Regions from separate parts of the Homo sapiens genome. Here region 1 is linked to region 2. Evidence: fine-mapped expression QTL. A gene starts in region 2. The other region holds a variant in brackets. All regions are shown on one strand. Distances are between the middles of the regions. Region 1 overlaps SLC37A2 (solute carrier family 37 member 2). Region 2 holds the start of CCDC15 (coiled-coil domain containing 15).

What was found. PIP is the estimated chance that this variant, and not a neighbour inherited with it, causes the effect. A credible set is the group of variants that fine-mapping cannot tell apart.
Region 1: its variant is the best candidate, but not a certain one, in a credible set for the expression of CCDC15 in whole blood (TOPMed, PIP 0.57).

What each region holds. Positions count from the first base shown.
Region 1 is chr11:125,064,972-125,069,373 of GRCh38, forward strand. All of the region lies in intron 1 of SLC37A2 (solute carrier family 37 member 2), which reads left to right. Among named protein-coding and RNA genes, the nearest start is that of SLC37A2, 3.9 kb to the left of the region's middle. The variant T/A (reference allele first, on the strand shown) is at 2,581.
Region 2 is chr11:124,952,465-124,956,866 of GRCh38, forward strand. It overlaps CCDC15 (coiled-coil domain containing 15), which reads left to right and starts at 1,738. Exons shown (of 16, transcript NM_025004.3): 1 at 1,738-1,906; 2 at 2,260-2,445. The coding sequence starts at 2,269. CCDC15-DT (CCDC15 divergent transcript) reads right to left here and starts at 1,527. Exons shown (of 3, transcript XR_948134.3): 1 at 1,018-1,527. RefSeq lists an enhancer at 1,398-1,941.

The sequences.
Region 1 (4,402 bases), 110 kb after region 2:
AAAAAGAGAATCTAAAGAACATATTCATTTATAGGTTAGGAATATTGAGACCAAATTGGTCTTCTACAGGTTGTGAGGGAAGACTACTGAAATTATCTTCATAGGTATATTTTGCATGGCTTCTCAGTTACCTACCACTTCAAAGAATTTTAAAATAGCTCAAGGTCAATTAAAAGCTGGAATCTGATAACCTGGCGGACTATGTGCTAGACAAGGCATAGTTTTCCACGGAAATACATTGTTTTTCTACAGTCTCTCCTGTTTTGATTTTTAAGAAAATTCTTAGAAGGATTATTCTTGATCACAAAATAAAGCTGATCTCATTGGATTTGACTTGATTGTGGCTGCAAGTGTGTTAGTTTACCATATACCCCTTGTTAAGTTAATAAACTTAGCTGGAAGTTTTCATAAGGAATCCTAGATTAGATTTTTTAAAGCCTTTAATTATTTATTGTCCTGACATTAGTAAGCCGAGTCAAGAAACTGTCTTCACCAGGTTTTACCTACTGTACTGATGTATTTGGGCAAATTCCTCTTCTCAGGGTCCCCATAATATCCTAAAGTTTCTGGGCTAGCCAGAGAGTGACCTTCCTTTTGGCTTGTAAACCTGGAAACCCAGTAAGCCCATTTTCTTGGGAGGTTTTTCTTAGTATTGGCTGCATAGAGTGAACCTCAGTTTTTAGAGGAGGCTGGTTGTATCTGATTAAATAGGCATCCTGATCAAATACAACATCCCGGCAAGGTCTTGGTTGCATAACCAATTTTTCTAATTATGTACTGGTAAAAAAAAAATTCTTACTGAACCTGTGCAAATAACCATACTTCCATGAAAAGCAAGAAGATTCCATAAGAGTTTCTGAATTCTGAGGAGTCAGGTAGGGAGAAAAAGATATTTATAAGTGTTTCATTTCAGTTTATGAAAGCAGAATCTACTAAGTTCTTATGGGTTAATATAGCCTAAGAAGAAAGAGAAAGGTCTTCCTTATATGTCCAGAAAATAGAACACTATATCAACATCAACAGTATTCTGAACATAGAAGACAGTCATCCATCCCCAGTTCATGCGGTCCTGTGTGATTAATTCTGTCCCGCTGAATCTTGGGTTAGCAATCTCAAAAACCTATCTGCTTCTTGACTAAAGAGTTCTGGAACTCCTGACTCAGTCCACTAGTACGTTCTTAATGTTGTCTAAGTAGTTCCATCAGAAACTTATATCCAAGAGCAATTACTCAGTACAGTGCTTTTCTGAGACAGTATTTGGTTGTTAAAGATAAAAACTCTGGCCTGCCAGGCCCAGTGGCATGCTTACAGTCCCAGCTACTCAAGAGGCTGAGGTGGGAGGATCCCTTAAGCCCAATAGTGTGGGACTGTAGTGCACCATGATCATGCCTGTGAAAAGCCAGTGCACTCCAGTCTGGGCAACACAGTAAGATCCCATCTCTCAAAAAACAAAAATCTCCCACTCTATTCTATAACTGATTACAGAGCCTTTAAGAAGCATCAAAGTAAAATAAAAACTATCTGTAGGTGACAGAGACTTAAAAATTGTTGATTAACTTCTTACTGATAATTTTCAAGAATGAATGATCTGATGAGAATTCATGACAAGAATAATGCAACTGACAAGGAAATTTGGTTGCTTCTGTGGTGTGCAAAACAAAAAGATGTTAATCCAAACAGAAAAAATCTAGACAACGTCTAAAAATATAAGGTTAATTTCAAAAAACACAATGAACATATTAATTTATAAAAATGAACATGATTTTTACAGAGAAAAAATTTTAAGATATAATATATAAAAATTCTGGGATATAATTTACATAAAATGCCAAGAATATCAACTAAAGATATTCAGTAAGCTTAACATAAGTTCTAAATATCTGTATTTTAATAAAACTGCAAAGGAAAGGCTGATGTACATCTCCAGTTGAAAACCAGTGGCCTGGAAGATGCTACATTTAAATTAAAGAAGGAAAGTTGCAGCCTAGTAACTATTTTATTTTATTTTATTTTATTTTATTTTTTCGAGACAAAGTCTTGCTCTATCACCCAGATTGTAGTGCAGTGGCACGATCATAGCTCACTGCAGCCTCAAACTCCTGGGCTCAAGGGATCCTCTTGCCTGAGCCTCCTAAGTAGCTGATACTACAGGCATGCACCACCACACCCAGCTAAGTTTTTTATTTTTGTAGAGACAGGGTCTTGCTATGTTGCCCAGGCTGGTCTCAAACTCCTGGCCTAAAGCCATCCTCCTACCTCATCCTCCCACCTCATCCTCCCAAAGCACCAGGATTGCAGACATGAGCCACCATGCCCAGCCTCCAGTAACATTTTAAATAATAATTGAAATCGTGACTAGTAACACGTATACTGTTGTTATCGGGGAAGGCACCATCAGGGTGCTGATAAATAGAAACATGTCATGTACAGAGAGGGCATTGAGAAGTCTGCACAACTCTTTTATAGCATATAATTTCTCAAATATTTAGATAAATAATAATATTTTACCAATATAAATTTAACCTAGAGAAGGCTGAGCATCTCTTCTGACTTGACAATTATTTCCAAGCAATTGATCAA[T/A]ATTAACATATTAAATAAATCTAATGATTTCTAGCACCTCTCTTTTTAAAAGATGAAAGAACAAATCTTTGTGGTTTTCCAGGAGCCCTTCCTCTTTTTAAATTAAATATTCACAAACTTATCAAGATTTTGCCAACTTTGGCAAAATTTTAACACATTTAATTGCTTATTTTTAGACTTATTGTTTGATGTACTATAATCCAAGACAAATCAAATTTCCTTTCTACAAACCTAAAATGTATCCATTCAGATTTGACCTTCCCTGTTCCCTTTCTTATTCTGGAACAACCAGTCATTTTTCTTATGTGTAATATTTTTCCTTTTAATAAACAAAAACAGGTTTCAATACCATGTATACAAAGTCATACCTCTCTGCCACGATTGTTCCTAGTAGAGTCTCATTCATGTATATTAGTTATATCTTTTAACCAAAGTAACTAACATTTCAGAGAGAATGGGGAGTGGGGAGGGTGGATCATTATAAACCATCTAGAACACATTGGCATTCTAGAAGGGCTCAGTAATACGCATAACATGACTTTCTCCAGCCTCCAACACTCTTCACTTTCACACTTCTCAAGGTGTGAATTCAGCTACGGTATTCCCCAACATCTCTGGGATTTATGACAGACCTTGGTTGAAATCCTTTCACCACTGTGAGCCTTGACTTTGCTGAGCCCCAGTTTCCTCATCAATAAAAGTCAGATGGGTTCTTGAGGATAAATGCGATAATATAAGGAAACATTCTTGACGTCTTGTGGCTGCTGGAGGGTACTCAACAGGTATCCTTTTACTTCCTTCCAGATAAGTTTAGATTTGGATTCCTATCAAACACTAAATGTCACGTAGTTCTTCTGTAAGTACATTATTATGCTGAGCTCTGAGGCCTGCAAAGACAATCAAGACAGGGTTCTACCTTCTTGGAACTAAGAATCAAGCTGGAGAGGGGCTGTGTACACACAGTCAGCAATTTTAGAAGGCCCTGCTCTACTTATTGAGTGCCAAAGGATGGCATTTCCTATGTGCCATGTCATTCAGAGGACCAGCGAGGGGAATGCAGAAGTCGGTTGGGGAGATTTTGAAGAAAACTGACTTGCTGAGCACTTAACACATAAAAGGTTAGAGATTATATGTATACATTGCCTGGTATACAGGAAGCATGGAATACATGGCGGCTTTTACTATCATTATTAATGATGGTGATGTTATTATTACAGATACATATTAACCCAATTCACCTTTCTTGTGCTAAACAAAATACAGGCCAGGGTGCAGACAAATAAAAATAAAGACTTATAGTCTGAAAATGAGAAATCAAATCTCTGTCACATTTAACTGCTTTCACATGTCCCCAAGGAGGGCATTTAAGAAGTGAAGAAGACAGAATAGGAAGCTGAAAGTGGACTGGCCCTGGGCCTTGGACTCCTCCTCTGTAAAATGAGGATAATAATAATACCTGTATCACACGAGTGTTTTGAGGTTTAAATGAGGTACTACGTGTAAGGTACTTAGGTCAGTGCCAGGCTGATATGAAACACTGAGTAAACACTAATGATTGACTATATTCTATTTGTTTTTCCTACTACTTTGTGCCAGGCATTGTTTATTTGTAATTTTTGTGGAACTGCAAGGTGAATGTTAGCTTCCCTGTGGAACATATGAGTGTAATGAGGCACAGAGCAGTTATGTAAGCCTGTCCAGCACCACACAGCTGATAAATGACTGAGCTGGAGTTGGAATCAAGATTAGTCTGACTCGTAAGCCCATGGTCTTTCCGCTGCCTTCCTAATGATAGTGTTGGGTGGGGAAAAGATTACATGGC
Region 2 (4,402 bases):
ACTGATTAATCCTTCTCAATCTCTTAGCATTCTCCTCCTCTTTTTCTCAGCCTCTGTAATACTGACATACCCTGGGGCTGTTTTAGGATTTATTCTTTTATCTGTCTATATTCAACCCCTTGATGACTCCATCCAGTCTCATGGCTTTAAATCTACAGGCTAACGACTCTTAGATTTATATTTGTAGCCCAGAACCCTTCTCTGAGCTCCAGACACTTTTTCTCATACTATCTTCTCGGATGTTGATTAGATAAAACTTTATCTGCCCCAAACTGAACTCCTGATCTTCCCCTTTCCAAATCTACTCCTTCCACCATCTTCACTATCTCAGTAAATAGTAATTTCATCCTGACAGCTGCTCAGGATGAAACCCCTAGTTTTCCTTGACATCTCTCCCTCACACAATCCATATCCAAACCTTCAACAGATCCTGAAAGTTTTGCCTCCCAAATAGATACAGAATCCAACCACTTATCATCATCTCCACCACTACCTCCTTGATCCAAGACATCACAATCCCTTAACTGAATTATTGCAATAGCCACCTAATTGGTCTTCTTTACAGTCTATTCTCACTACAGCATTCGGAATTATTATTTTTTTAATTTTGTCACATTATGGTGTTCCTTTGCTCCAAACCTTGCTCCAGTGGCTCCCCATCTCAACACCTATGGTGGCTTACGATGTTTGATCGGATTGCCTGCTTGACCTACTGTCTCAGCATTCTTCCACTCTCCCTCTGCTCCAGTCACACTATCCTCCTGACTTTTTCTCAACCAGGCAATGCTTCCACCTTGGGGCGTTTATACTTGCTGTTATATCTGGAACATGTTTATAAAGCCTCCGTTGAAGAGCACAGTGGCTTCTTCCATTAACTCATTTAAGTCTTTGCTGAAAAGTATCTCAGTGCAGCTTCTCTGGACGTTCTAATATTTCATCCCTCCAATCCCCACCCTGCCCACCACACTCCCTATCCGCTTTCTTTGCTTTTACTCCACATCACACACATTTACTTACTCATTGTTTATTCGCTTATTTCCCCTCACTCTATTGTGAATTCCCTGAGCAGGGATATTTGTTTCGTTCATAGCTATGTATCTCCGGTGCTTGGAACAGTACTGGTTTATAAAAAGTTAGTAGTAATGTATGTTAATCGAATGAATAAATTATCCTACAGAGATAATTGAGTGTCTCTGGATTACAGCAGAGCTTGCAGCAGAGAGGGAGACCACTCAACAGGCCGTGATGTCCAAATATAATAAGATGTATGAAACAGTACTGTAAAATTAGCTGCACAAAGGATCCGAAAAATTTGTTAGCTTAGTTTGTTTCTCCAGGAAGCCGTGCCAGGCTCGCCTCCCTCTTTCATTCTTTTCCCGTGATTCCCTCTACTGGGACTCCTGACCCTCCTAGTCGCCAGATCACAGGCCCAACGCATCCCTTTCCGGAGGGATTTAGGAAGTCTCGGCGTTGGTCCAGGAACGACAGTCCCACCGCGCCTCACATGGCGCATTACCCAGCGACTCCGCTTACCCACACGTCCCCGCCCCCTCAGCCGGACAGGAAGAGGAAATGACGATACCTCGGGCGCTCGAAACTCCACCTCTCACGCCTTCCCAGCTCCGGGAGGGGACGCGGGCTCCGGAAAGGGCGGGCATAAGGCTACGGATGGGCGGGACGGAGCAGCCCACCGCAAAGTGGCGGTCTACTTGAGGCGGTTACCTTAGTACTCCGAGTAGACTGAGTCTGTGGCGAGCTGCGGGCCGATTCCTGGCCAGTGCCATCTCAGCCGGAGCAGGCCTCGGGGCCTCAGAAGCAGGCTTTTATCTGGCCCGAGGCTCCCAGCCGTTCAGCGCGTCTTCCCATAACCTATACCGATTATTGGGACTCTCGGCTGCAGACACAGGTCCCCGCCCCTCCCTCTTTCTCCGGGTTGCAGCTGTCATTCCTCCCTTCCCGCCTCGCTGCGCCCACAGCTGAGGACAGTCTTCGTTCTCTCATTCCCATCCTTTCTCTTCCCTCTCATCGCCATTTCTTCTAGAAGGCAACTTAAAAACCTTTCTTTGCCTCTTTATTTCTTCCCATTTCTCTTCCCTTCTTTTCTTCCTTTTTCTCTAGAATCCGTGTGTTTCCACTTCATGCCAGGCTTCTGCCTCCAGGGCTTCTCTCCTTTTCACGGGCCTGTGGCTCATGTGTTAGGAGGTTGAACTTTTAATGCAGTCATTTGAAGATTTTAAGCTTTTTCTTTCTCCTAATCAGGAGTCACAGATGCTGGGAAGTATGGCCCGAAAGAAACCTCGAAATACCTCAAGGTTGCCCCTGGCTTTAAACCCCCTGAAGAGCAAGGACGTGTTGGCAGTGCTGGCTGAGAGGAACGAGGCTATAGTACCAGTTGGGGCATGGGTGGAACCTGCCTCACCAGGTAGTTCGGAAATCCCAGCATATGTGAGTGTCAGTTTGATCCAAATATGGTGGGGTTCCCCACCACCCTTTTTATTAGCCTTCTCTAATCCTGGGTGCTTAAAGATGAACAGTCCGAGGATGCTGTTTCTATTCTGCCATAAATAGTTTATGCTCTTGCATTAGGATTATAGAACAAGTATTTGCCAAAACTTGACTGCAGCTTTAGTTGGCATAATCAAATATTTATTACTCACCTACTATAATATATAGAGCATAATCTACATGGAACAGGTTATATAGATATATATCTGTATATCAGTTTACTTCAGACTCTTGATTGCTTGTTATGCCCAAGACATAAGCACTATCTACATCTTCCAGACACTGCAACTTAGTATGGATGATAGTTGGCATACTTCAAGTAACATTAATTGGTTGCTTAAGGTTTATGATAAATTTTGTAATGAGGATTCAGGCAAAATGGAGTAATAGAATAAAGGAGAAAGAGATGAACTCTGATAATCTGAGAAAGTCTAACTAGAAATTCCATGGTTTCTGATAGTCTTTCACCAAACTGTGCCCCTTAGCTATTTGTTCAAATTTAACTTGGCACTTACCACATTGTGTTATAGTAGATTGTTTATATATCTTTTCCTGATGCAGTGTGAGCTCCTTGAGCGTAGAGAACAAATGTCATTTATCATCACATTCCCACTTTTATCTTAAATACTGCCTAATCAATATAGACACTCATGAAGTATTTATGAAAGGCACAAAATGTCTTCTGTATGTGTAGACAAGGTGCTGAACATGGATGAAAAAAGGATGAGATATGTTCCCTCAGTGTACTTGATCTCAGAAGAGAAATGAGATGTGTTTAAATGTTAAAGTAATGCAATATACTATATTCATTTTATTTATGTTTGCACATATGTATGTATATTCATTGATTTATTCCTACCCTGCCTATTTCCAAAAAGGATTTTAAGAGTCTAGGTGGTATCTCTATCTAAGTTCTAAGAATATAATGCTCAATCAAGAAGCTATGACGTTGGGTTGATGTGACCCAGGAAAGTGTAATGAAGAATTTGATCGGAGAAGGGAAGGGAATGATTCTCCTATTAAGGAGAATGAGGAGAGTAAGAAGTAAGCAAGGTTCAGGATTCTAAGGGTAGATTAGATCGATTGGAGTGGAAAGCTTAGTAGGAGAATGGTTGCTGACAGGATTATGGAAAATAGGGATGGTAGAGTACCTTAGGAAATTTTGGAGAAGGGATTGACTTTGTTTAATATTTACAGGTGAATGTCATGATCAACCAGTGTTTTCTTTAGATGAATTGCTTCAAAGGTTTTGAAGGATAGGGAGTGATTGGATCCTGGGGATAAATTAGAATATAATTATAATAATTTAAGCATGGAGTATAGCATCGAAACTTTGTTAGTGGTAAGAAATAGAGAAGAACAGCCTTGAAAAAGGATGATTGAAGTGCTTGAGCCCACGAATTGTAGGCTGCAGTGAACTATGATCATACTACTGCACTCTAGCCTGGGCAATAGAGTGAGACCCCATCTCTGGAAAAAAAAAAGGAGTGGAATGAGAAGGGATGAATGCAGGAAACACCCCACAAGACTTGGTAAGATTTGGTATAAAGATATTTTGGTATTTAAGTTGTTGACACCTCTTTGTAATTGCTCAAATTACATCTGTATAATATCAGTAGTGTCAACATGCCTAAAATTTGACACCATCAAACTTTTTCTATGTTAAGAAGTATTGACTATCGTATTCACACACATTAACTCAAAATATTAAAGTCTTGGAACATGGATAAACATATCTCCTTTTCCTGATTTAAAAATTTCTGATCAGTTCCAGCCAAAGGGAGTTTGATCAAGCATCTAATAGAACTCCTTATAGCTTTAGCATATCTAGTCTGGGTATCCACCCTTATTAACGGATATAGCTCTGTCAGCTCAAAATAAATGCTGAATAGTTACT